2 separate regions of the Homo sapiens genome follow, and region 1 is linked to region 2. The links come from fine-mapping of genetic effects on gene expression. A gene starts in region 2. The other region holds a variant in brackets. All regions are shown on one strand. Distances are between the middles of the regions. Region 1 overlaps MAMLD1 (mastermind like domain containing 1). Region 2 holds the start of MTM1 (myotubularin 1).

What was found. PIP is the estimated chance that this variant, and not a neighbour inherited with it, causes the effect. A credible set is the group of variants that fine-mapping cannot tell apart.
Region 1: its variant is the best candidate, but not a certain one, in a credible set for the expression of MTM1 in breast (GTEx, PIP 0.67).

What each region holds. Positions count from the first base shown.
Region 1 is chrX:150,494,430-150,511,353 of GRCh38, forward strand. MAMLD1 (mastermind like domain containing 1) reads left to right here. Exons shown (of 8, transcript NM_005491.5): 6 at 8,845-9,088; 7 at 15,533-15,617. The coding sequence ends at 15,573. It overlaps LOC124905223 (a long non-coding RNA gene), which reads left to right. Exons shown (of 2, transcript XR_007068346.1): 2 at 1-4,985. Among named protein-coding and RNA genes, the nearest start is that of MTM1, 66 kb to the right of the region's middle. The variant A/G (reference allele first, on the strand shown) is at 12,247.
Region 2 is chrX:150,561,292-150,573,498 of GRCh38, forward strand. It overlaps MTM1 (myotubularin 1), which reads left to right and starts at 7,330. Exons shown (of 15, transcript NM_000252.3): 1 at 7,330-7,371. RefSeq lists enhancers at 4,003-4,925, 4,926-5,847 and a silencer at 7,132-7,811.

The DNA.
Region 1 (16,924 bases), 65 kb before region 2:
CCTGCTGTCAACACTGATCAGGTCAAGAAATAGAATATTGACAACCCCCAAGTAGATCCTCATGTGACCTTCCTGATCCAAGATAATTATTCTGCTTTTCTACATAGCTTCATCACTTATTAATAGACTTAAACTTGTAATTGCTTCATTTTCAAAACCTTAGTGGCGGGGCCGGGTACGGTGGCTTACACCTGTAATCCCAGCACTTTGGGAGGCTGAGGCAGGCAGATCGCTTGAGCCCAGAGTTTGAGACCAACCTGGGCAACATGGGGAAACCCTGTCTCTACTAAAAACGCAAAAATTAGCTGGGAGTGGTGGTACAAGCCTGTAGTCCCAGCTACCTGGGAAGCTGAGGTGGCAGGATCACCTGAGCCCGCCAGGGAGGTGGAGGTTTCAGTGAGCCGTGATTGCACTACTGCACTCCAGCCTGGGTGACCAGAGTGATACCCTGCCTCAATACAAAACAAACAAACAAACAAACAAACAAAAACCTTGGCCGGGTGTGGTGGCTCACACCTGTAATCCCAGCACTTTGGGAGACCAAGGTAGGCAGATCACCTGAGGTCAGGAGTTCAAGACCAGCCTGGCCAACATGGCGAAATCCTGTCTCTACTAAAAATACAAAAATTAGCCAGGCATGGTGGCATGTGCCTGTAATCCTAGCTACTCAGGAGGCTGAGGCAGGAGAATCCCTTCAACCTAGGAGGTGAAGGTTGTGGTGAGCTGAGATTGTGCCACTACACTCCAGCCTGGGCGACAGAGTGAGATTCCGTCTCAAAACAAACAAACAAACAAACAAACAAACAACAGCAACAGCAAAAAACCTTAGTGGAAGACACAATCTAAGCATTTAAGGGAAGAGTCCCAGGCCATTAGTAGATGAAGGCTTTCAGAAGAAGAGAGGTTGACCTGTCCTGGTCATTATCTGCCTTCAGCTTCCCGGGAATGTGTAGAGCCCACCACCATCAGGACACTAGCAGAGTTGTGGACATGGTATTGGATATGCAGAAGAAATATGGCCAAAGAGATTGGACTGCCCTCTGTGTTTTGCTTTCAAGCTCACCACAGCCTGCCTCCAGTACCTCCAGTTCCCAGGTGTAGGGCAACACAGAACATCCCTGTGGGGTGAAGTGAGTGGCCTCCACTGATCCGGCCAGCAGGACCAGGAAAGCAGAGCAGGAAATTCACCAGACAAAGGGTCAAGCCAGACCTCTTCCAGGGTGGGGGACAGGCAGATGCCTGGGGACACAGAGTCAGAGAGGGGATTCAGAGATCTGCCTGCTCCTTAACCAGCTTCCAGCCCAACCCCATTACGCTGACCATGTCCCCCCATTCCACTTTACCTCCCAGATCTGGGAACATCTAGAGCTCCTCCTCCTGAGGCTTGGGAAGATTCTGCCGTATAGACCACGATCCTTTCCAGTTTTCTCCTCTGCTGTCTTGTGATTCAGCTTCCTTGGTGCTGTGTAGTCAGTTAATCCTGGTCTATCTGCATTTTAGTTTCATAAATTATGATGCTGTTATCTCCTCTCCTATTCTCTCTATCCTGGTGGGATTTTGTCTTTAAAAACAAAACAAAACACAAACTCTTACTGTAGTTTTAATGAGACTCTGGGAGGAAGAGAATTTAGATGCTTGCATTAAACTGCTGTCTAATTCCAGAAGTCTCCAAAGGAAATCCTGCCACTCCCTTCTTCGGTTGCCCGAACATGACGGTTAGTTGGATGGCTCCCTTGGAAGCCCAAGGTGCCATCAGGGAGATACTGAGAGAATTTGAGGCTGGGAAGGCAGGTGGGGGTTGGGGTGAGGGTTATGTTTTGAATATTGCTTCATATTGAAGCATTTGTAGTATTTGCGGTTAAGAGCCTGGATTTTCATGTAAGTCAACTCCAGGTTCAGCTTCCAGCTCTGCCAGTTACATATGGTGTGACTTTGAGCAAGTTACTTTGCTTTTCTGAACCTTATTTTCCCCACCTGTTAAGTGGGGATCATAATGGTACCCATCTTTCAGGCTTGCCATGGGTATTGAATGTTTCACTTAGTAAACATTTACAGCGTTTCACTCAGTGCCTGGCACATTGTATGTGTTCAATACATGGTAGCTATTGTCATCATCATTATCGTCATCATCATGAGAAAATAGAAACCTTCCAGAAACTGTCAGGGCAACGATTGCCACAGGCCGTTGTTGGCTACTAAAACTCTAGACTCTGGAGAGCCTTGATGCCCTTCCTCTTTTACCCCGTCCCTGATGCTCCCCCAAGTAGCATGATGCCCAGTGGCCCACCAACCTCATTACCCAGCATTGCTGACAACAGGCACAGCCTTGGTCACTGTGAAAATGCCCCACAGCCTCAACCTCAGAAGTGGGAAGTATACTGCAGATTCACTCTATGCCAAGCACTATGGGATATCCACAGGAATGTGCCACAGTGAGGTAACTGCCCAGGGGATAGTAATTCCTTCATTTCTTTATACATTATGGATTCTACCATTTTGTTATTGGGTTATTTTTCCCCTTGTCAAAGTAGCAATTTATCAGTTGAACTTAATTCTCTAATTAAATTTCAAATCTGAGAATTTACATGATGAAGTGAATTTGATTTTGGACCCAGTCAATTTCAGTCAGCCCTAAACATATTTTGAAATGTTAAAGTTAAATTATATACGTTTGTGGAGGAAAAACTCCAGGAAAGCCTAAATTTTTCCAGGTCTTGCTTAGGGGATACCCTGCTCCAAGAAAACTTTTACAAAATGCAAATTTACAGAACAGATCCACCAAATGGGTGGGATTGGTGCTACCCTAGAGTTTTCTGTAGAATTTCTTTTTTAAAAAATTTTTTTCTTTTTTTTCTTTTTTTTTTTTTTTTTTGAGATGGAGTCTCACTTTGTCGCCCAGGCTGGAGTGCAGTGGCGTGATCTTGGCTCATTGCAAACTCCACCTCCTGGGTTCAAGTGATTCTCGTGCCTCAGCCTCCCAAGTAGCTGGGACTACAGGCACGCACCACCATGCCCGGCTAACTTTTTGTATTTTTAGTAGAGACGGGGTTTCACCATGTCAGCCAGGCTGGTCTTGAACTCCTGTCTTCAGGTGATCCACCCACCTCAGCCTCCCAAAATGCTGGGATTACAGGTATGAGCCACTGCGCCCAGCCAGAATTTCTTTAGTGAGATTTATCTACCCCCTCCACCCACCATACCACACGTATCATAACAGAGGTCCCCCAACTTGGAGTTCTCCTCATTTCAAGGTACAGTTATTATAAAAAGAAGAGGACACCTGGGTCTCACAGCAGCCAGCTCTGCGGCCATTGCACAGTAGAACCTCAGTGGCCTTACAAAATATTCTTGCTGTTAGTCTACTTACTGCAATAACAAAAGTTTCACTTGGGCACTTTGATCACACAAAGCTTGGCACAGGCTTTGAAATCAGACAATACCTAGGTTCTAGTCTAGGCTCTGGCACTTAACTAATGGGTGATCATGGGCAGGTCGCTTAACCTTTTTGTGCCTCAGTTTCCTTATCTTTACAATGGGATTATAATAGTACCTCCTTCATAGGATTGTCCTGAGGATTCATTAATTGAAATGACCCTAGGAAAGGGTCAGTGCCTTACACTGAGTAAGTTCTCAGTAAATATTTATAATATCATCATCATCATCAATTATTATTATTATTAATTTACTTTACCAAAACACAGGTCCTGCTGAGCCATGTTGGCCAGACCACACCTAGAACAGCATGTCCAGTTTTAGGCTAATCTGTGTAAAATTCAGTGCCTGGACCATTGAAAGGGGCTCGATATATGGTGGAGGTATTATTGTTAATTAATGCTGCTGCTAACCTTCCTGGAGTGCATACAACATGCCAGGCACTGCATACGTGCTAATTCTATTAGTCCTCTTAACCTTTACCACTCTATGAATAATATACAATTATTAATCCCTTTTGCAGATGAGAAAATTAAGGCACAGAAACGTTAAGTAACTCTCCCACAATTACAAAGCATGGAAGTGGCAAACCCATAATTCAAGTCTAGACTCTCTTTTTCCAGAGCCTGGACTCTTAGCCACCATGCCAAAGAGCTGTGCTGTCCACTGCTGTAGCCAGCAGTCACATGTAACTATTTAAATTAATAAAAAATTTAAAAAACAAGAATTCAGTTCTTCATTTTTACTAGCCACATTTCAAGTGCTACACACTTCATGTGGCCAGTGGCTACCATATTGAACAGCACAGCTCTAGAGCATTCTATTCTTTCTGGGATGATTCAGCATCAACTCAGGAAGTTCTGTTGGATGGTGATGCTTACAGAGATTCTGTTTCTTACAAAATCTCAGACTTCAGTTGTACAGCTTTCTTGCATTGTTATTAATAGATGCATACTTATGATATATTGAAATCCCATTTGCACTTGGCCAAGTAGGGTAATGGCAAGAAAAAAGCCAAGAAGCGTGACTTACATTACGTTTTCCTGTTTCCCCGGTGCATTATTTCAAATTCACAAAGTTGTCTCCTATCACCTCTCTTTGATATGGGGCAGGAGGCATTCATCAACTTGCCCAAAAATCCAGGTTCTTCCACATGTCTGCCTTCACCTCTTTGGGCTATCTGGATAATATTTAGTGCTCTAGCATAGTAACCTCACAAGTGACTTGAACAACGGAGGTTGGCTTCTGAAGTCAGTGAGCCACAGAGGACCTTGGACTCTGAGCATCTTTGACACACTCATCAAGTCTCCAGTTCGCTTTCTTGGGTTTTCTCTGCTCATTTCTGTTACATGGTTAGTAAAGGCCAGGGAAAGAAAAGGTGTTGAGGATCCATTACCTTAATTCCAGAATGATTAAGTCAAGAAACCTACAAGCTCTCAGAAGCCAGTGGAATTAGAGTGCACTACTATAACCTTGCAAATGTGCATATGCCTCCTTCCGAATCACCAGAGTGGAGATTGGGCCAATATCCAATCTCGTCAATAATTTATAAAGCCAGAGCATTCATCCACTTCTTGCAAAGCAGCTGAATATCTATGGGGGTTAGTCATAATCTGAGCTCCTTGCACCAGAGCCATTTGAGCTACAGAATAGCACAGAGTGTCACAGAATAGCCAAAAGTGCAGAGTTATTTCAGTATGAAAGAAGGAGGAGCACCTGACTGCTCCTCGCCATGTGCAGAGGAGGAGCCCATGCATTTCCAAACCCAGGGGTTGCTTGGTTTCTAGCTTGGTTTCTGTCTGTACCCCATCTTGCTATTGTGTGACTTGAGTAAGCCCATCTCCACTTCCTCATCTTATTAGCTAGGAACAATCTATCTCAAATTCACATGTGCACAGAGTTCAGTGCCCAGCACACTAAAGCATGTTCAGTAAATATGTTAGCTGATGTTATTTTCACCATATGATTATGATCACTCTCTGTTCTACTGATGGGTTTTATAAACCCACCAGCATTGAAAAGAGATGAGTAGATGTGCTAAAATGAGAGTAAAGGCTCAGTTTATCATTGGTGTTTATCCCAAAAAAAAGACTAGCACAATGCTCACCAGATTATAATCTCCCAAGTGCCTAGAACATCATGCCAAGCTAGTAACATAGTAAAGTTTATTGAATTTTGCAAGTATTTGCTGAGCCCTTTGCCTGGGCTAGATACTGTCGGGGCACCAGAGGGATTTAGAGATGATTAAGACTTGGCCCAGCAAGAATGTTCAGTCAGCCAAGGGTATTCAGCCACAGGAGCTGGACCTGGAAAGAGAGGCAGAATTTCCAGGGTGGAGGAGCTTCATCTCGAAAGACACACAGAATTCCCAGAGTACAATCATGGAGAAAGGGCATTCCAGGCTTGGCAAACCAAGGAGCACAAGCACAGAGGGCCGACCACACATGGCAGCCTGTCTGGAGAGCTCCAAGGAGATTGGTATGACTGGGGGTACGTGACATTATGGAACGCAAAACCTGGCTGCTGAGAGGGTGGATGTGCTTGCACTTGCATCTCTAGTCTTGGTGCGAGCCATTGGAGGATTTTTCAGGGGAAGGGAAACTGGGCTGACCTGGTTCCAGCAAACTCTCTGACAATCATGAGAAGCCCAGGGTCCAGGGGGATGAGTAAGTGTGACCTCCAGGAAACGGGGCACCACTATCAGACTCTATCTGTCCCATGGCTTACTTCTGTGAGATTCGAAATAGTGTAGACCTTGTCAGTCCATGAGCTAGTAATTATGCCCACCAATTACTGATTTATTTGCCTTTCTGAGATGTGCAGTGATCCCAAGGACAAAGATGGATTTACCTTATGTTTAGAAACTTCTAGAAGTTGAAATGTTCCTAACAACCTTTCCTGTGGAGGTTGTACCTCACACTTAGAGTGTGTGATAAGCAGTTTCTTTTCCTAATTAAATAAAATGGAGAAAAGACACAAGCATCAGCTATAAAGCTCCCAGTCAGTCACAGTCAAGAGACTGAATCTCATCTCTTTTATTTATTTTTTGTGTTAACTGGGGATTGCATTGGTCTGCACAGTGCTTGCTCCCATCCTGCTCCACTTGATTGAGTGGCTCCAGGCCCCCTCTTGATTGCTGCTGAAATAGAACTGCCCACACTGTCGGGGTATCTTCCGCCGCTGGTCATTTCCATGTGCCATCTGCAGTTTTTTCTGCCTGATGGACTACTGAGGCACTGCGTATGTTATGCTGATGGGGGGTCCTGTTTCTTGACCCATCACTAATATCTTGCAAGTCACAGGAAGCTACCAGGGATTCCTGAGCAAAAGCTTAAAATGCTTCAGTTCTCTACAAATAAGCCCCATTCATTGCTTTTAGAGTGTGTTATCATGGAGCAGACAAGTAATCAGAACCTGAGTAATATTTGCATATTGAGGTCTTCAAAACTCCAGTGTGGCTATAAAATGGTATTTAAAGTTATCAAGGAGCTAGGTATGCAGGCAGAAAGAACTGTCCATTGTAGAAAGCAATGCCTCTGCTCATGTCCCAGATAACCTTGCTCCAAGGACAAACTGGAGCTTGATAACATGAAGCTGCAGATGGCCGGTGAGCTCAGCTCTGTACTCACTAACCACCCCATGGGAGGGGCACTGAGCCCTCTATGGTTGGCATAAATCCCATTAGAATGGTAAAGAAATCCTTTTCACAAGTACATAGAAATCGCTTGCTAAGATTTCATGGGTTTTCTTGACTTTGTTGTTTTTGTTTGGGTTTTAGAGGGTGGGCATGAGTCATCTCTAAAACTGTTCAGGTAGTTAGGTTGTCTTCTTATTCCCATTTTTAAGTATTTATAATTTGTTCTTAAAAATTTGTCCGGAGGTCCACACCTCCCCTTGGAAAACCTTGCCTGTACTTTTCTTAATGGCACATTTTAAGTTTCTATGTTTCAAAACTTGCTTATCATATAACATGCTAATGACTAAACACATGCACACCTCCACACCAATGCAAACGACATGTGGGCTTGGGAACGAGGCAAGCCTGGGTTTGCATCCTGCTCTGCCACTAGTGGGCTGTATGATTTTGGGCAACTTAGTTAACCTCTCTGGGCCTCATTGGCCTCATTTGTAAAATAAGGGCAATAATAGTCCCTTTCTCATAGATGGCTATTTATACAGATCGAATAAGACCAAATATTTAAAGAACCTGGGTTAGTGCCTAAAGCACAGCAAATGCTCAATAAATTCAGTGGTGGCAATTTTTATTGTTATTTCAAATATTACATCAAAATATCTACTGAACTATTATCCATTGCAAAGACTTGCCCACAATAGGTGCTTAGTAAGTGTTTATTGCAATAAGTTGAAGTGATTCCAACTATGTAGCTTAGATTTCGGGTATGAGTGTTTCCTTCTCCACTGGGATGTTTGCTAATGGACATAGATGATCACTCACAGCTCAGGTATTAAAAGCAGGAGAGTAGAGGTGTTCCTTCATGTAGAAAGAAGAGCAACTTCTCATCAAGGCAGGCTTCCAGCTGGTCCTTTGGACACCACTGTTGCTAAGCACTTGGTGTGCTCGTCAGGGTACCAGGGCTCTTAGCAGCCACCCATTTGCGTTTTGCAGCTTTTGCTGACATGGATATCAAGTATGAAGTTATTTTAATTGCCTTTGGCTGAAAAAAATGGGTCATATGTTCAATATGTTCAATTCTGGTGAAATCCCTGTCTTCTAAAGCATGATAGAAAGGGGAGGTCCCACCCACACACAAGTCCTAAAATCTTGGGGCCCTAGTGGGGTATAGTTCAACAAGGGCTGCAGCTCAGGACGTGGTTGTTGTGAGATTTACTCGTGACTGTTTGGTTTTGCACTCACCATTTGGTTTTGCAGATTCCTCAGCGTGTTCACACACACATACCTACAAACCAGTTTAGAGTTGTGTGCTCCATTGTGGGGGGTGGTCACTGGGGTGGGGTGGGGTAGGGTGGGATCAGGCTTGGTCAAAGTCATTGCTGATGAACCAGCTATCTGACTTAGCTTTGTTCCCATTTTCAACAAGACAGTGATTTCTCAAGCCAGGGGAGTCTTCACATGAGATCCATGGATGGGTATTAAGTGGTCCAGAAAACCCCCCCAAATTAGATGTAAAATGTTGGTGGGCTGGAAAGGGGGAGACACCATAAGTGCTTTTTCTGTGGAGAGAAACCATAGCTTATAACTGGTTCTCAAAGAAGTCTATGACCCAAGACAAGCTAAGATCACAAAGCTGTTTGGTTTCGTTCCACCAAAGCAGTTGGTGGGTATAACCACAACACCCAGATGACCCAGCTAGACACTCAGGGCAGTGACAAGATCAGTCAGAACCATTTTGTGGCCAAGCAGCTGATGGATTGTTCAATCGGTTGTTGTAGACTCATGTAGACAAAGCCTGCAAGCTTGGGGAAGCCAGGCACCCCCAGGTCAGCCTCGGGCGACAGCCCCCGTCCTGCCAGGCCCTGGGGAGTGAGTCCTTCCTGCCCGGCAGCTCCTTTGCTCATGAGCTGGCCCGAGTCACCTCCTCGTACAGCACCTCAGAGGCAGCGCCCTGGGGCAGCTGGGATCCGAAGGCCTGGAGGCAGGTGCCCGCTCCACTACTGCCTAGCTGCGACGCCACAGGTAAGTCACTTCCCCCTGAGCCTCGCTTTCCTCATCTGTCAACGGGGCACAGTCCCCTGCTCAGCCTGCCCGCCTGCCTCACAGGGTTGTTGGGAGGAACACAGGAGGTGACAGCTCCGAAGGTAAAGCTCTGTCCACCCATGAGGGACTTCTAGTGCTTCCTGGGCCTGCTTGTTCTCTACTTTCTGCCCGGCATTCTTTGGCAAAGGGACAACCCAAGCAAGCAGAGTGCTCCAGGTGCCTCAGCCCCACCTCCAGGGAAATGAGTGGGGGATTGACCAGGGTGCAGCTGCTCTCTCCCTCAGCTGTATGCCTTCCAGTACCCCGTTTCCATACCTACCTGCCTGTCTGTCCCTGAGGCCAGACTGGGAACCTGAGGGGGACAGGGGCTGTGCTTCTGCACCTCCGAAGCCCTGCACCTGATACCTGCCTGCTTGGCACCTAGTGGGTGCTCGGGAACTGCCTCTCCTGCCAGCCATCTGCTGTGGATTCCAAACCCCGCCCAGGACTCCCACACCCTAGAGGCAGGAAGTTGGATTGCCCTGCTGGAGGACTGGCAGTCTGGGTAGTACAGGCAGAAGGAATCCAAAGCAAGCTTGTCCAAGAGGCCTGTGAGTTGGGATCATCCTCTAGATTCTAGAGTCTAGAAGGAATGGCTTGACTTGCCCCCAGAGTCGCATCAGTGGTCATGAGAGCAAGCGGATGGACACCAGCCAGAGGGGACCTTTGCAGAGAATTGCATCTGGTGCATAAAATATCAATGTGCACAGGATGTCTGCACTATCTGCAGAGAAAACTGGAGACATGAACATTTTCTAAGTGATAGTGATCAGAAGATGGTCATTAAGCTGAAAGGGCCTCCCAGGATTCTGGCCTTTAATGGAAATTCGGCTTTGGTATGTACAGCCTTGTTCTCTTTATCCTGCCTGCCCTGGCCTGGAAGAACAAGCAGTGCTTTCCTTTCAAGGGCTATTGATTTCTCTCTCTCTCAGAGTCACAGAGCTCCTCAGCTGTTCACTCTTCAGCTGAAACCAGAGAAATCTTGTCCAGCACAAAGCTGCCAGGGAAACAGAATTAGCAAAACGGACGTCGTCCCCTCAGGATGTCGCTGTTTCCACCCTGGTCTGCCTTGCCTTTCCCTGTCTTTGGAAGCCACAGATGAAAGGATATCAGCTAGCTTGCCTTGAGAATTATTGTCCCTCACCTATTCTCTCTCTTCTCAAGCCAACAGCTTTCACCCAGCAGTGAAGTGGCAGAGCAGATTTGTGGCCCCAAATCTTCTCTAAGAACCTTGGAAATTGGCCCCACCTGAGGGCCTTTGAGGGTCAGGCCTGGCATCCACTAAATCCTCCCTGTCAACACAGCCACTTTGTCAGTCCAGCCTGTGAGTCAGTGCGAGACAGAGGATGCAGGCACCACAGGGGAAGAAGAAAAGCAAGCTGGAAATATATTTGTTTCCTTTGCCCGGGATCATTCCCAGCATCTAAACCAAGTTCTTCCCAGACCGGCCAAGACTGAGGAGGAGTCAGAATAGAGTTTGCAGCAGTCATAGATCATGTGGGAAGACAGAAAACAAAGGGTAAAAAGAATTTCATATACAGATCTCTGCCGTTTGCTTTCAGTGGCATTCATTTTGTGAAGCCCCCAGTGACAGCTTCAGACCAGTTCAAACCTGAGGGCAGCATCATTACCATGGGTGAGGTCTCTAGAAGGGCAAGGAAAGACCCCTAACATAGAAAATGGTGTGGCAGTTTCCAGTTCCCCATTGGGGTCCCATGACTTGACCTTAGGTTTCTGCCAGCACCTGCCCACCCTCCATCCCTTCACCCTACTGGGTGGTCATTAGAACATTATCTGCTTTGATTGATTTACTTGTGTCCATAAGAGTAGAGACACACGGTGTTATCCCCATGCCCGGAACAGAGCCTGGCCCATAGTAGACCCATGACCATGTTTGTTAACTGAGTGACAGAGGGACTGACTGGACTGTCATGTAAGCAATACCTTCCCGTCAGGGTCTTGGGAAGGTAGGTTCAGGGGCCCCAGAGTTACTGTGGCCCGTATCCCTCTGGCTGCATTCTGGGCAACGCAAAAGGGCAGGTGTTCAGTGGGTTCCACCCCAGATCTCGGCGTTAACAGTCCACTGGGAGAAGTGGCCCAATTCGTGCTCATTACTCCCAGTGGTCCTGCCTCCCTGCAGGCATTCTGGAGAAGCTGAGTCACAGGCTCTGAGAGTTAGGGGGAACTTAGGAAACAATCAAAACTTGCCTGCCATTCATTTTAGGAAGCCGTTGTAGTTTCTGAGGGACGACTAAAGGGAATTTTTTCCTAAAAGCATCCATCCGTCCTCCAACTAGGCTTCAGATAGCAGTGTGTATGTTGTCACTATCTATGGGCCATGGCCAGTCAGAGCCCACGGGTCTCAGGGGGCTCCACCCATGTGGGGGTGGGGGTCCCCACAACTCAGATCTTGAATGTGTGGTGGTCCCATGCAGTATACTATCTTCCTGTCATTGCAAAGGGAAAGTCAGAAGGGTGAACGAGTTGTTTCTAATTCTGGCTTCCAAACAGTACAAAAGAAGGTTTTTTTCCTTGTGGAATACACTAGTGCTCAACCTTTGGGACAGATAGCTGAGCACCTTCTGCTGTGTGGCAGGCTGGCTCTCTGTGGGGGCACTCATGGAGCAGTGTCTGCTGGAAAAGGAGACAGGAGTTCCCTAGCATGGAGGGGTAGATAATCTCCCCGCTCCCTCCCCTCTTCTGTCCTCCCTTCCCCTTCTCCCTCCTCCTCTACCCTCCCCTTTTTCCTCTCCCCTCCCCTTCCTCCTCCTCCTCTTCCTTCTCTTCCTCTTCTTTATTCTCTCTCCCTCTCAGTCTCCCCTTCCCTCCCTTCCTTCCTCCCTTCCTCCACATTCTTTATAAAACAAGGCTTTGGATCCATTCACTGCCATCCCCCAGAAGTCTTGTCATTTGAATTCTTGTCTGAGTCAGGATGCTCTCCTCCAAGGGCTCATAGGGCAAGGAACTTCAGCCCGAATCCGGCTAAAATCCAGGAACATTTTGTGGGCATCTGTCTCAGTCCCCGAATCGTTTGTCCTCTGCCTTTCCCCCGTTGGAGTCCTTTTGCCTGCTTAAGTGGTTGAATTGGTAATGAGATC[A/G]TTCTTCCCATGCAGTGGTGAGAAAGCAGCACTCAGGTGATTGCACCTGGGTAAACAGGAGACATTAGCATGTGGTAGCTGGTGAGTGAAGCTGGTGCAGTGCCTGGCGTGGGCTCAGTTGTGCCAGCAGGCAGTGGTGGAGTTTGGGCTCTTTCCCCTCTCTCCTGCCCAGCACACAACCCCCAGGGACAGGTGGGGGCTTTACAGCTCCCTGGCGTCAGCCTAAAGCTTCTAGAAAGGCATCCCCAGGACTTCCAAGGTTGCCATCTTGGCTGAGACTGTCTGTGAATGTGGTCCCTTGTCTGACAGTGGGGGCTGGGAGGGGTGTGACAGAGGAAGAGCTGGGCCTTAGTTCTCTGGGGGTCACCATGAGAGAAGCACACCTGGGCTTGCATAGAACTCAGTGCTGCTTGTCAGTGTCACCTGGCACAACAGGACGTAGTGCCACAGTTGCAGCCCTAGAAAATTTGACGACCCCTTCATAGCTTTGTTTATAAAAGGCCACACGGCCTAGGCTGTCCTTCATAAGAGAGCAGAAAGCGAGTGTCCCAGTCACTAAGCAGCAACTTTCAGGCACGGTTTCCTCCTGGTCACTGAAACCATTTGTCATTTCCTGTTTTCTCCATTTTCCAACGATTCTAATTGTCAGTGTCAAAAGGCAACAACTGTTTTCTTGGGGCTTATCTTTGGAGCACATTGATTCAGAACAAAGGATGGGAGCCTCCATCTGCAAAACAAAGGAAGCAGCCTCCTCGGGAGGCCTGGAGAGAATGCTCTGGCTCCTTTGGCCAGGGACAGCAGGACCAGCATAGGAGCAGAGGACTGGCGGTGCCTCTGGACACTGCCGTAAGGTGAAGAGACCATGGAGGACCGTCGCTTGCTGGTGGCACCCCAGACTTGAAGATCCTGCAGAGCTGGCCACCGGCACCCAGGCTGGGTGTCAGCAGCGCTGTGTGGCCTTGGCAGTTTCCATAGTGATAGGCTGGCCAGCTTTTCCATTAGACTCCGGGGTCCTCTGGAATGTGTGCTTCCCGGGATGAAGACGCCCCAGCACCCGCTGAAGCCTGCCCTGCCCCGGCGTGGCCTTTCCTTTTGTCTGGCACGCCCCTGGGCTTGGCTTTCTCTTTCCGTCCCTCCCTTCGGACTTTACCGCACTTCCCCTGCTGTTTCCTTAGTCACACTCTCCAGCCTCCATCTGCCCCTGCCCCTGAACCCCTACCTCTGTACAACTGTGTTATTTGATGAAACTAATGCAGCAACCGGTGGGGATGGAGTTAAGGACCGTTTAGACCTAGCCAGCCACGCAGGAATCTGTCCCCAGAAGCAGCGGAAGCACCTGGTCTGCAGTTAGGAGATACTGTACTTCTTAGCCGTGTCACCTTGGGCAAGTCATTTAACCTCTCTGAGCCTCTGCTGTCACATCAGTAAGCTGGGGACTGTAGATCTTCTGCCCTGATGTCCTGAGACTGGTACAAGAAGAGCCAAAGCGAAAGGACTGCCTTCAGAAATGGCTGCCAACCCTGACCATCTCAGGCAGATCCGGATGGTGTGGCCTTGGGCAGTGGTCATGTGACCCCCATGCTCCTCAGTGTCCACATGGGGTGTTGCTAGATGACATAAAATAATGGGTGAGACGTGCTCAGTATAATGAGAGCTTGAGAAGGCAGATCCCACCCCCCATCCCCACCCCCACCCCTTGCCGCCTTGCCAATGCTTTGGCAGGGAGAGGGCAGCTCCATAGGGCAGCTGAGAAACAGCCCCTCACTGCCCACACGGCAGCTCCAGTGGAGGGGGAGGCAGGGACCAGGACAGGAAGCAGGCTAAGGGCGGGATAGAAAAGCAAACCCCAGTCTGGTGGAATCGCTTCTGGTGTAGTCTTCCCGGTGCCATGTGTTTGTCCTCTCTGCCTTGGCAGGAACCAAGGCCAGGAACTGCTGCCAGGCCTGAGAGCCGGGCACAGTCCCAAGCACTGGGTCGCTACCCCGCCCCACTCCCACCAGCCCCACTGAGTGCAGAGAAGGGTTCCCAGAAGCCCTTTGCTGGAAAAGCAGGCACTGCACGGGCAGCCCGTGTTGTAGAGGCAAGTCCTCTGGCATCTTCGGGGGGACACAGACCAGAAAGTGGACTTGGAGCTTGTGCTCCCAGACAGAGCTGCCTTGGTGGTTGAGAAGGGGAGAGAGATGGCAGCAGTTGAGCAGAGATGGCCGGGCTCCCCTCACTGTGTGGGGTGAGGCTTCAAGCACTGGACTGGGAGTCAGACCTGGATCCGAGTCACAACCTGACACCAACTGGCTGAGGGTCTCAGAGCAAGTCATGCCTTTTCTGGGTCTGGGGGCCTTCATGTTATTCCCTCCTGGCTATGTTCTTCCCCTTTGCTCCTTGAGCCGATCCCAGACTGAGTGCTGAAACTGCGGCCTTGAAACTTGGCTCGCTCCTCCCCCTGCCCACCCAGCCAGCTTTCAGATGGAGACAGGAAGCTCCTCCCAATTGCCTATGCTGCAACTAGTCAGGAGAAGGGCGGGAGGTTGGCAGTAAGTGTTTGGCTACTCCCAGTGTTGGAGACTGTGTCCACCTGACCATGTGATCATCTGGCCGTTCATGCCAGGACCACCAGGAACAAGCCTCAGTCCTCTTCTCAATGTCCTTTCCCTATGACAGCCCTGCAGAGGCTAGGTATCCACCACTACATAGCCCACAGTCTGCTCTGCCCCAGCCACAGCATCCTTGGCTTGCTCAGCCATTCTTTGTCTGGGTAGTTTGAAGTCCAATCCCCACTCTCATTACTTACCATCCTCTGAATGCAGCCAGTCTGTCTGGGTCTCCCTGAGACTGGCATGCCCAGACTCCTGTGGGTATAGTCTGGCCAAGGCAGAGTTAGCATAGGACTGTCACCTCCCTCCTTCTACATACTCTGCTTCTATTAATGCAGCCTAATGTTACATTTGTTCTTTTGGTGACCGCATCTCACTGCTGACCCATCCTGAGCAGATGGACATCCAAAATGCCTAAAACTTTTTTCTGTGTGCTCTTGCTATTAAGTTCTGTCTCTCCTGCCCCATTCTATGCTGTTGCAGTTGTGTTTTTAACCCAGGTGCAGAATCTTACTTTATTTATACCTGTGGAATTTTGCTCGAGAGGGTGGGGCATGCATGCGAGTGTATGCTGGTGTGTTTATTCATGCTTTCTGCTGCACCAAAGCCAAGTCCTAGGTCCCCACGCAGCGATCCTAAGGCTAATTATTAATTGGTAGCTGTAATCTAATTTGTCTTTTTCATCTTCTGTTTAGCAAGAGGAACAGAGATCAGGTCTTATGGCAATGACCCCTGAACGGCAGAATGCATATATCTCCCAACAGATGAGTCCATTTGAAGGTAAGCAGTTAAGGCCAGTGTTCCCAAAGGGGTGGGCAAGGGGTGCATATGTGGAAGTGGGGTGAGAATTCATTTCAGAGTAAGCAGTTACTGTGCTTCTGAAAGCATTGAGAAAGAGGAGATCTGAAAATCAGTTAAATAATTCATCCAACTCTAAGAGCAGGATCCCAATTGAAGGCCTGGTCTAAATGACTCCAAAATCACCACTTAATTCAAGAGACTGATTTCCCTGAGTCAGGCCCCTTAAAGCAGCTATTTCAATGGGACAGGGAAACAACCCTAGGATCTGGATTAGAATCACTTGGGGGCTGCCACACCCCCAGGGCTCTGATCCTGCCCTTCTCCCACACGCACATTCACATACTGCTGCAGTGACCTTCCATTTCTAATGGGTTCCTGGGCCATCTGTCAGGTATAGGGAATGGAAAAGGGGTTGGGGAGGCTCTGCTTCAGAAAGTTTGTGTCAGGGGCTCCCAGAGCCTCCACAGATAGATAGCAGGGGTCCCCACCCTACCATGGCAGCTATAAATGTGATCAACATTTATTGGCCTAGGATACAGCAGTTAGCAAAATGCCTGATGTAGTTCCCACTCCGTGGAGGTTGCAGGCTAGCCAAGAAGTCATGAGTTCAGCAACCCTTACGCACCAGTGGGATGAGATTGGACCAGGCCGAGGGTAGTCTTGGGAACACTCAGCATTTGTCTGAGGGCCAGAAGAGGCTGCTTGCCCTCAGACAGGAGGTCAGCATCTTTATTGTAGCCCATGACACCTCTACACCATTGCTCTTCTGGTCTTATGGAAGACATCTTTGGGCCTGATAACAGCGGAGTCTGTGTCCCACTTGTCCAGGCTGGAGTGCCACATCAGGCACACTCCAGTTGCAGGGACAGCACAGACAAGTTTCAGGAAGGCTGGTGGCCTCCAGGAGGTTAACCTTATAAGGCCAGATTGTAACCTAGTTGAAAAACATACACATGCCATGATAATAAAAGAACCTAGGCACCATTACAAGAGAAAAAATCATTTTTGTAGATACGAGCATGGATTCTTGGGTGGGTCAGACACACTGGGCTTGTGCTCTGACTGCACTGTCTCCCCTACCTGACCTTGGGTAAACCATAAGACTGCTGCATGACTCAGTGTCCACCCCAAAAAAGTACCGGTAGATATTGGCCACAGTAGATATCAGCTAGAGTGGACTCTCATGACAATGAGGGGAGATGTATTCCCCATCTTAGGCACCTGGGACTCTACCTTCCATCTTCTGCTCCGTGTCTCTCCATCCCCAGGCTCTTCAGAACTCAGGG
Region 2 (12,207 bases):
CCCTCTCCCCATTGAATGGTCTTGGCACCTTTGTCTGAAAATCATTTGACCATATATTTTAAGGTTTCTGTCTGGTCTCTTTATTCTATCCCATTGGTATAAATGTCTGTCTTTATGCCAGTATCACACTATTTTGATTACTATAGGTTTGTAAGGTTTTGAAATCAGGAAATGTGAGATCTCCAACTTCATTCTTCTTTTTCAAGATTGTTTTGGCTATTTGGGGCCCCTTGATTTTCATGTGAATTTTATGATGTATTTTTCTAGTCTAAAAATAAAATATCTCTGCTGTTGAGATTTTGATAGCGACTACATTGAATTTGTGGATCACTTTGGAATGTATTTACATGTTAACAATATTGAGTCTTCTAATCCCTGAACACAGCTGTCTTTCCATTTATTTGTGTCTAATTTATTTTAGCAATATTTTGCAGTTTTCATTGTAAAAGTCTTTTGCCTCCTTGATTAAGTTTATTCCTATTTTATTCATTTTAATTAATCTTAAATAACACAATTTCGTTCAGGTTCAGCAAATATTTGCTGACATTCAGTTTTGTTTTTGTTTTTGTTTTTTGAGGCAGTCTCACTCTGTCACCCAGGCTGGAGTGCGGTGGTGCAATCTCGGCTCACGGCAGCCTCTACCTCCTGGGTTCAAGCGATTCTCCTGCCTCAGCCTCCCAAGTAGCTGGGATTACAGGCACCTGCCACCACACCTGGCTAATTTTTGTATTTTTAGTGGAGACGAGGTTTCACCATGTTGGCCAGACTGGTCTCAAACCTCAAGTGGGACCTCAACTGATCCACCTGCCTTGGTCTCCTAAAGTGTTGGGATTACAGGCATGAGCCGCTGAACCCGACCTCAGGTTTTTTTAATCTTTTATTTTTTCCCTTCTCATATATTCTCTCTTGGTTTTAATCTTGGGTCTACAAATCTGTGTTTGAGAAGTAGCATACTACACACCTCAACATGAATCAGGCCCTTCAAATAAAAGATAAAGCTCTTTTTAAAAAGCCTGTTTTGAGTAAAACACACTTGACTGTATCGTGAAACATTTCCTCATAGGGCTTACTTTCTTAAAAGTTATTTAGTGTAACAACTGAGGTTTCTTTTATTTTTATCTTATTTAAGTCTTTGTAATTGGGGGTAGAAGGAGAGGATCTTGTGAGTTGGGTTTAGTTTTATTTGTGATCTGACTGGGGCAATTTTGTCATGGTGTTGCCTGTGGACTAGACTTCAAAGTCCTCGGTGAATACCCTATATGTGCCTAGTGATGAAGGAAGCAAACAGGACTGGCACTTGGAAACATTGTGATGTCATGACCATAAGCCCTTTGTGCTGGCCCCGGTGTCCAAGAAGCCCTGAGACAAAGAACCTGGGTTTCTCTCTGTATGTGTTTTCATGTCCCATTACTTGGCTCAAACTTCCATCTAGCACCTGGCAAAATAGAACCTGCTGACCAGCGGGGCCTCCTCAAGGAGGCTCCAACTTAACATTGAGCTCTGTGAGAAAGTGGAAGCAAAATACCAGTGAGAAGCAATAGCAGTCTCGTCTGCCCAGGAGCAGAGTGTACAGGTTGGCTTTCACGGTCTCCTGGAGCCCCACTGCACATGTGCCTGCAGATCACTGGCAGCTCCCAGAGAGAAGCTGGGGGAAGCTTCTGATCCCTGGGGCCCACAAGGGTAATGCTCTCTCTGTCTGGGATGTAGATCCCAGGTCTCCTGCATCCAGGTAAGCTCTCTCTGTCCTGCCCCCATTAGGCTGGGCTCTGTCTTCTCCTGCTTCGGGAATGATAGAAATGTTCTATTTCTTGATTGTGATGGTGAACAGACTGGGTAGCACATCCTTGTTATTTTCACGGCAAGCATCACCACTCTCTCCCCTTCAAGACCCCAGTCCTCTTAGAAAACAACCAACCCACCAACCAACCAAAAAGAGATAGACAATTCTGGGCAGCCTTAGGAATCTTAACTGAGGCTATGTCTTCTTGTCTTCTTCCCATGCTTAAATCTCAGCTTTTTTTTTTTTTTTTTTTTTTTTTTTGAGACAGAGTCTTGCTTTGTCACCCAGGCTGGAGTGCAGTGCAGTGATCTTGGCTCACTGCAACCTCTGCCTTCCGGGTTCAAGCGATTCTCCTGACTCAGTCTCCTGAGTAGCTGGGACTACAGGCACGTGCCACCACACCTGGCTAATTTTTGTATTTTTAGTAGAGACGGGGTTTCACCACGTTGGTTAGGCTGGTCTTGAACTCCTGACCTCGTGATCTGCTTGCCTCGGCCTCCCAAAGTGCTGGGATTAAATCTCAGCTTTATTGGGCCGGGCACGATGGCTCACGCCTGTAATCCCAGCACTTTGGGAAGCTGTGGCAGGTGGATCACCTGAGGTCAGGAGTTCAAGACCAGCCTGGCCAACATGGTGAAACCCCGTCTCTACTAAAAATACAAAAATTAGCTGGGCGTGATGGTGCACACCTGTAATCCCAGCTACTTGGGAAGCTGAGGCAGGAGACTCACTTGAACCTGGAAGGCAAAGGTTGCAGTGAGCCAAGATTGTGCCACTGCACTCCAACCTGGAAGGCAGAGTAAAACTCTGTCTCAAAACAAACAAACAAAAAAAACAAACTCAGCTTTACCGAAGTATAACTTATCTGCAGTGAAATTCGCCCATCTCATGTTTATAGTATAATGATTTGGGGGCAATTGTATATGGTTTCATGATCGTGTCAACAATCAAGACACAGAACATTTCTATCAATCACCCCCAAAACTTTCCTCTTGCCTCTTTGGAGTCAATCCCCCACCCACCTCTAGGCTGACCTCTGGCCCCAGTCAACCATAAATCTGCTTTCTATCATTATTGTTTTGCCTTTTCCAAAATGTAATATAAATGGCATCATGCAGTATATAATATTTTGTGTACAGTTTATTTCATTTAGCATGATATTTTTGAGATTCATTCAAGTTGTAGCATATATCAATAGTTCTTCCTTTTTATTGCTGAGTAATATTCCATTGGGTGCATATATCACCATTGGCTTAGCTATGGGTTTAATCAGTGGGGATTTGAGATGCTTACATTCTTTTACTATTTTTTATTATTATTATTATTATTTTGAGAGGAGTCTCACTCTGTCGCCAGGCTGGAGTGCAGTGGCACGATCTCGGCTCAGTGCAACCTCCGCCTCCCGGGTTCAAGCGATTCTCCTGCCTCAGCTTCCTGAGTAGCTGGGATTACAGGTGCACGCCACCAAGGCTGGCTATTTTTTGTATTTTTAGTAGAGACGGGGTTTCACCATGTTGGCCAGGATGGTCTCGATCTCTTGACCTTGTGATCCACCCACCTCGGCCTCCCAAAGTGCTGGGATTACAGGCGTGAACCACCGCGCCCAGCTTTTGACTATTATTTTTGAAAGGCTGCTGTGAATATTTGAATACACGTCTTTTTGTGAACGTATGTTTCCATATATCTTGGATAAATACCTAGGAATAGTATTGCTCGGCCATATGTACATTTACCTTTGTAATTCACTGCCAAACCATTTTCCAAAGGGGCTGCACTATCCTGCTGAGGCTGCTTTTTAAATACAGACTGGGGTTGGGGAGGAGGAGGTAGGCAGAGCTGCTTTGCAGTTCTCCTAGATTCAGAAGTTAGACCTGGCATTCATGTGCTTCACAACAAGCTTATGAAGGAGTTAATGAATAAAACCCATTTCACAGATGAGGAAGTAGAGGTTTGGAGAGGTGTACTTGCCCGAAGTCACACACCTAACAAATGGAAGAGCTAGGATTTAAACCCTGGAACCTTTGTGTCAGTGCACAGGGGCTTACCCCCTATCCTCTCCCATCTCTCTCCCCAGTGATCACCGTGGCAACTTGGGAATTCTGCTGCCTTGACACTCTATACATCACATTTACATCTATCCTCAAGGGGACACAACGACCCTGGGAGGTGGCATTCAACCCCTTTTTTTCAGAGGAAGCAGTTAATGATCAGAGAGGTGAAGTGACTTTCCCAAGGCCAACAGCTTGCCTATAGAATTTCTGGGACCTGAATCAGGTTTCCTAGTTCCAAGTGCTTTCTGCTAGAGCATGGTAACCCACAGCTACATTTAAAATTTTTCATTCCTAATTTTCTTTTTCTTCAGCCTTCTCTTTCCTCAGTAAGAATGCCCCTCCCTTTCCTCCACCTTCCCCTGCCTCAGGCCCAATACATTGAACCTGGTAGGATTAAGTTGAGGCAGGAGTGGGGACTGGGGAGATCAGAGCATAGAGGCCAAGGGAGAAGTAGCAGGAAACAGGCCATTTCCTCGCTCGGGCCTGCTTCTTATCTAGGAGGTGAGAGGCCAGAGGTGGAGGTAAGGGATGAAGCCAACCAAATCCAGAGTGCAGGCTCCTCCTGGTGCTGCCTAGCCTGCCTCCCCCAACTGCAGAGAACAGGATGAAGCCTCTGAAGGTAGGAGGTGCCTCCAGCCCTCCAGCCTGTGCCTTAGCAAAAGCGGGAGGACTCTGGGGGAGAGGGGCGGAAACAGGTGTAGGCTGTGCTACTCAGAAGGGTTGTGGAAGAAGCAGCCTGAGGTCGCATCTATTGCCCCCTCCTCTCTATTGTCCTGGAGCCCTGGAGAGGGAGGCCAGCCATCTTCTCACAGGCCTCCTGCATGATGGGGGGGTGTATGTGTGCAAAATGCAGGGAAGCCTGAAGATTCCTACACACACACACACACACACACACACACACACACACACACTGAAATGTGAGTGCAGCCCCAGCCTGGAAGAGGGCAGGCTCAGTCAAGAATACAGCGATGTCACCAAGGGCAAGGCGGTAACCCCTCCATAGTGTACAACCTTGTTTGTTTGTTTGTTTTGAGATGGAATCTCACTCTGTCACCCAGGCTGAAGTGTAGTGGTGCAATCTCAGCTCACTGCAACCTTCACCACCCGGGTTCAAGTAATTCTCCTGCCTCAGCCTCCCGATTAGCTGGGATTACAGGCGCCCACCACCACGCCTGGCTAATTTTTTTGTATTTTTAGTAGAGACGGGGTTTCACCATGTTGGCCAGGTTGGTTTCGAACTCCTGACCTCAAGTGATCCGCCCGCCTCGGCCTCCCAAGGTGCTGGGATCACAGGCCTGAGCCACCGCGCCCAGCCCATAGTGTACAACCTTTACAGTTTTCAAAGTGCTTCCTCATCTGTTGCCTCATTCGATCTCTGCACCTACACCGTGAGACAGGCACGGCAGGGGTTACTCTCTCCATTTCACAGGCCAAAGGCTAATCTTCTCTACTGGCCCTTTCTGGTTGAATTGCATCTTTCTAGAGGTGGGGCTGGGCTGGGGCTGGACCCTGGAAAAATCTTCAGGAATTACCTCCTTAGGATGAGACCATCCCTGCTCTGCACCTTCCCCACCTCCTAACCCCCAGCTCCTCCCAGCTCCATCGAAAAGCTTTGGCCTCATCTTGGGACACTTAACCAGGCCTATTATATGCAAGGTATCCCAGGCAGCTGCTGCCCTCCCTCCACCCATCCCCATTTTCCTCTATCCCTCTGCCCTAAGATTCACAGATACCAGGAATCCAGAGTTATTCAGCAGCCCACCAGGGAGCCTCTCTAGCATGCAAATTTACTGAGCGTGCTTTGAAATTCAGCACAAAAGTGAATGAGATTCAAAGGAGTTCATAGTCTGGGGAGGGGAGTTGGCAGAGCAGACGTGTAAGCAAATGATGACATCAGTACAACAAGAAGGGCTGGGTGGGGGAGACTTCTAATTGTGCGGGGGCCCAGGAGCAGCTGCTATTCTGCTGTCTTTCCAGGAGTTTGGCAAATCCAGGAGAGAGGACCAAGTGGAAAGGGCTGGAGGAAAGAAAAAACCCAGTGCATCAAGTTCCCTGGAACTAGGCCAGAGCTTGGGGTGAAGAGCAAAAAGAGGCACACTGGGAGAAGTGGCTAAAGAGTGGGTTGGGTTGGATTCTGGATGGCTTTGTTACTCTTCTAAGAAGTCTAGACTCTTCAATAAAGCATATATATATGCATATATAAATGATATATGAATATATGTGTATATGTGTGTGACTATGTAGAAACACACGTACACATATACACTGGTATCAGGTAAAATGCTGTTTTTAGATGCTGGAGAACTAACACATACAAGAGAAAAAAAACAGGTCATGATAAAGTCATCCTATTTACTCGAACTGCTCGCGTATAAGTATTATGCAGTACAAAGAATATTATGCTCATTTTTCTATGTGCCAGGTTGTCTTTTCTTTTTTTAATTTTTTTGACACGCAGTCTCGCTTTGTCACACAGGCTGGAGTGCAGTGGTGCCATCTCAGCTCACTGCAACCTCTCCCTCCCGGGTTCAAGCGATTCTCTTGCCTCAGCTTCCCGAGCAGCTGGTATTACAGACACCTGCCACCACGCCTGGATAATTTTTGTATTTTTAGTAGAGACGAGGTTTCACCATGTCGTCCAGGCTGGTCTCGAACTCCTGACCTCAGGTGATCCGCCTGCGTTGGCCTCCCAAAGTGCTAGGATTACAGGCGTGAGCCACCGCGCCCGGCCCAGATTGTTTGTTTTATTTGATTACACAATGAATTCTCTTCTTGAAGTTTGCCTTTCTTCTCTTTTTCCTGTCCCTTTCTTTTTACTGTATCAATAGTTGTCTGACCCAAACCTCAACAAGTAGAAGGAATTTTGGACTGAAATGTTTCCGTTCACTAAGTCTCAATTGCGTTCTTGGAAAGGTGCTGGCACAGCTGAGGGACACCCCAGCTGTTAGTTGAGTTTGTGAATTGCAGATCCTGCCCCAGAGTCAGTGAAATTTCTTTTTCCCTTATACTATCTCAACTTTACGCAGCCAACCCTGTGTACCCAATAATAGCTCAATTTAGTGGCATCCGCTAAAGTCTTGTATAGAGAAGTTTTCCCTCTGGATTTCCCCTTTACTGAAGAAAAATGGGGAGACCCAGACAAGGGTCCCGGGACTACGCTTCCCAGCCGCCTCCGCCCGGCGCCCAGTCCAACTTCCCTTACAGGGATGGCCCCTGGCATCTTGGCCCCGCCCATCCCCAGCACCATATTGCGAACTACAATTCCCAGCTGCCTCCATGCGTCGGACCCTTCAAAATGGGCTTCCCAGCAGCCTCTCGGGCGAAGAGCCCCGCCCTTCGGAGCTGCTCCCCAGGTCGACCCGGCGCACTCTTCCTGCCCCCTGCCCCGTCACGTGATGCAGTCCCGCCAACCGGCACGGGGAGGCGGGCAGCGGGCGGTGGCCGGGGGCGGGCAGGCCGTGGGGGGCGGACCCCAGAGGGGGCGGAGCAGGGCCCGGCAGCCGAGCAGCCTGGCAACGGCGGTGGCGCCCGGAGCCCGAGGTGGGTGCGCGCTCACGGCTGGCCTGGCTCGGAGCCGGGCACTGCGGGGACCCGTGGTGAGGGGATCGGGAGGAGGAAGTTGGGACTCCTTGGGCCAGCGGGTCGCGCGGGGCCTTGCCGCACCGTCAGGGTTGGGTGGGGGTTTCGTCCAAGCGCCGTCGCTGTCCCCGCGGGGCAGGGCTGAGGCCAGGGAGCAGCAGGCAGGTACCTCCGGCTTCCTCCCGTTCTCCCCGCCCAAGGTGGCCGGCCGGCGGCGGGCGAAGGTCGGGACGGGGGTAGGGGTTGGCTGGCCGTGGAGCTGGGGGCGGACGTCTCAGCCACTGCCTGGACTTTGCTTCCCCGTCCCGGGGCGGTGAGTGGGCCGGGCGTCCGCCCTGCCTCCCCGGCGACGCTCCGCGGCTGGTCCTCGCCTTGGCCCTCCGCACGGAGCGGGCGTCCGTCGCATCCCCGGTGGGCCCTGCGGAGCGGCCGCAGCCCGGCACTGGCCGCGAAGCCTCGATGGCCGCTCTCGGCCAGTGTTTCTGTGTCATACACGAGAGGTTTATCTGCTTTTGCAACAGTTGAGGGAAGATCTTAGAGGGAACGGTTAGTTCCCTGATACGCAGTCGGAAGTATGTACAGGCACGAGCAAGCGCCCGTGGCCGGGTTGCCTCCCTTAACTGTCTTTTGCTGCGCTCAGGAAGTGAAAACTAATTTTAGTATTTGCCTAAGCAAGTAAGAAGTGAATCTGCTGCAAAAATTATATTAGAGCTTTATAGACGCACGCATCGTTTGAGGCGAAGTGGGTTGCGACTGGTTTTGAAACAGATACACCAGATCTTCACAAGAATAAAATTATAGCATTTTAGAATTGACTGGCATCCTGAAGTTTACATTGTTCATTTGTTTCCTGGATGGGGGAACTGAGGCCCAGAGAGGGTAACTAATATGTCCCGGGCTTCAGGGCAACTTAATGGCAAAGCTAATATCACAAGCCAGCTCTTTGGGGGTATCTTGGTGTCTGTCTAGTCTGGATTCTTTTTACCACAGCTCAGTATTATTCCTTGTGAAATAAGCACCTTAGAGTCTTGAGACTGAGCCAGCAATTTTGCTAGACTGCAAACCATTTTGAATTTCCTTCAAAATCGGTTTACCAACCAAATAAGACAATCAGGCCTGTTACTTTGCAGACACGTTTGCCTTCATCCAACATATATATTGGGCACGATCATGTATTCACCAGATTTGATTCTGAATGGCTTTTGGCTGCTTCACAAAATCAAATCTACTTTTCAGAGATTCCACACCATGGGGGAGATTTGAACCAGTGGTGCTGCCTGCAGCACCAGTGTATAGTACCCTCCCGGGTGCTTGAGGGTGGATAACATTCACGGGGGGCTTGTAGATTCTAGTGTAGTTAGTAAATGATTGGTCTCTTTAACTTAAAGTTCTAACTACATTTATTAAGTTGTCGATGGTTTCATTCATTCATCAAACACAAGAATGCCAACGGTGGGCACTGGGAAGACAGCAAAGAGCCCCACTGCTGAGGTCCCTGCCTTATAGAGTTTATATGTGGGGAGGCACACAATAAAAAAATAAACAATGATATATTTTCTGGCAGAGATGAGCGCTATGAGAAAAAATAGAGCTCTGAAACCTTACAATGACAGTGAAACAGGCTGGCATGATTGAGAATGACTTGGGCATTACTTTGAATTTCTAGTTTTAGATTGCCAGCTGCTGCTCCAGTAAAGGAAATAAATCCAAAAGTAAATCTCTGAATCAAAGAGATTTTTTGGAGTCATCATTTCTCCAATGAGTGTCTTTTAGATGGTAAGCTCATCCCAGCCTCATTTTTACTCACATTTCCCCCCACCCCGACATGCAAACAGTAAGTGATTTCAAATACCTAGAGAGGTATTTTTCAAATCCTTTGCTGTTTTCATAGTTAGATAGCTGACTGTAGCTACAGAAAGCTCTGCTGAGGTCAATATTGGTTGTTGATTTCATGCCGGTGTCTGCTGGACTCTCAGGCTACCTTGCACAAGGGTTTCTCTTCCTGTGCAATGGTTTGTACTGTGAACCTCTTATCTGAAATGATCATCAGTCCTTGTGTGGTTTGTAAAGAAACTAGTTCATTTTGAAATAGCTCAAGAGAAAAGAAGCACTCATTCTTAGGAACAAGAGTGCTCGCTAATAAAATGGCATTAATGAGAGTTGACTGTAAAAGTTCATCTGTTTAATACCTTCTAAGTTCTCTCATATTCTGTATGTTCAATGGCTTCAAAGCAAAATTTTAAACTTTTACAGGTCTGAAAAATAATTAAAGTTACAAAAAATACTTTAATATTTTTTGTTCCAAAATGAGAGGCAGATTAACAAAATGTAGTTACTTAGAAACCACTGAAAACACATGGTTCTTGCTCTTATTGAGGGCTCCAAAATAAAGAGAAAAGTGGAGACTCTCAACGATTAATAGGTGACATTTTAAAGGGGTAACCAGAGGATTTCAAAGGCTGGAGTTTCTCATTTCTAAAGTTTATTCGATTTTGTAACAGAATAATAGATTGTTTTCATTATTCTTTAGTAATTTTCCTTTCCTGTTTTCGACCTCTTTGAAGTTCTGCTTTCATTATTTTCTAGTTTTCTAGTTCTTTATTTCCTTTTTGGCAGATGTGGGGGATAGGGACCGTCATTTGCCTAGAAGATTTTGACTCTGGATTGGGCAGCCTGCCCCAATTTGAATCCTGGACCTAATATTATCTGTGTGACTTTAGGCAAGGTACTTAACTCTGTGCTTTAGTTTCCTTATCTGTCAAATGAGAATAATAATAGTACCTTTCTCAAAGGGTTGCTGGAGGGACTGAGTGAATAATCTATGCTAAGTGCTTAGAAAAGTGTCTTGCATGTAGTAGACACTAAAGAAAAGCTGTTATTGACTTGAACGATATGGAACTCTTTTGTTTTTAAGAAAATACATTATTCTAGCTATGTCTTAATAAACTTTTGGAATCCAGTAGCTTGCTTTTCTCGACATTTCTCTGCATTTCCTTGTTGGCACGAGCTTTTGGTTCCAGGCGACGCTGGCAGCAGTGTCCTCCGTTCTTGCAGTGCTATATTCCCTTTACCATTTGGACTTAGAAATTTCTTGAGGCCAAATTTTGTTGCTACAAACAATAATAGAGCAAGAGAGGCCTTCTTCTAGTTTATCTGCCTTGAAAGTGAGAGTGTATCAGGAGACCCAGTAGGAGTTACTGAGTTAGGTCCCGTTGTCATCCTGTAGTTGGGGGAAGATTTTTCATTGGAAATCTTTGCAGTGTATTTTTCCACTGTGAGTACCACGACAGTCTCATCTTTTTCTTTTTAAGAATGTGGAGGCATCTCTTTAGATAATTGGCATTGTGTACTACTAGTGCTTTCTATTTCTACCAGAGGAACTATGGTAAATGAGCCTTTTGTTTGTGTGAGGTGGTAGAAAGCTTCCTGCATTTGGATTCCAGAAGCTGAGTTCAGGTCCCAGTTCTCTTCCTTAACTCTGTGTCACTGGACAAGTCATTTAACCTTGCTGCTAGTGGCTCTTCCATCTGTAAGATAGAGCTAATAAAACCTGCCCTGCCAAGTTTCCAGAGTTCGTCAGAGAATCAAATGTGCCTCAGAGCCCTTTGTAAAGTGTGCAGCATTATTATTATTGCATGAATGTGTTGTATAAGCAGTTGCTATTTGGAGAACTGGTATAAGAGGGCAGTTGTCCTTCCTGTTCTTGGACTGTCTTCCCTGTGGCTGTAGGTGTGGCCTCTCTGCCTCAATCTCCCTCTTCTGTCATCATTAAAATATGCAGGTATTTATATTGCCTCTTTCATAGGGGCCTGATGTCACTGGTATACCATAACAAGTTTTTGTTTTATGTATTCCTAAAATGGTAGTAGTGTATAACCAACAATCACAGGGTGACAGCAAGGCAAGCTCAGCCTCAGGGAATGTTGCCTGCCTCTCCCAAGTGTCTCAGAATGGAAGACTTTCTCTTTTCCAATCGAGACCTGACCGCAGCTCCTGAGTCCATACTAGACTGGATGCTTGTGCTTCTGGGGTTAGAATAAAAAGCGATCCAGGCTCTGGGGAAGAGATGGTTGATAGCTCCCCAGGTCTGTACCATCCTCCTTGCTGGAACAGGGCAGGCTCCTGAGTGATAGGGCAGGCGCCTGAGCGGCCTTTTCTCGTTAAAGTTGTTTCTCAGTATCTTGAAATGTCTCTGTAAGTTGCACTTTGCAATGAATTTCATGTACTTGTATTAGTTTAGTATTGCTGTTCCTTGACTGTTTGTCTTAATAGGTAACTCCTACATATTTCAGTATGTTTTTCATTTTCTATGATTGTAATAAAAAGGGCGAGGTTGGAGATATTTTTTCTGATTGTCTGAAACCTAAGATGGTCCTATACACACAGTAGACATTTAGTAAACATTATTTAACTTGAACTAGACAAAGGAGGCCAGCTTAGAATTGTTCACACATGATCATTGTAACCAATTCTGTTGCATGTCTAGAGATCATGCTCCCTGTCTGCCAGATGAAATGGAGCTCATGCTTAACCTTTCTTGCCGTGGTCAAACAGCAAATGAGAAAGTTCTTTGAATCAGTCATTGTCTTGCCACCCTTTTCTTCTCAGCTTCTTGATTTTTGAACTCTTGGCATGAGCAGTTTGAGTACAGATTAGTTTTTGCTTTGCTTGCTAGTATGTTTGGGGTGGGAAGTTGAAGGGGGAATAATTGAAAGTAAAAATAAAAGTTGTTTGTAACTCATTCATCTCTTATCCCCTTGCCTCCAAACCCTGACAGCACACAGCAATGCCCTTTCT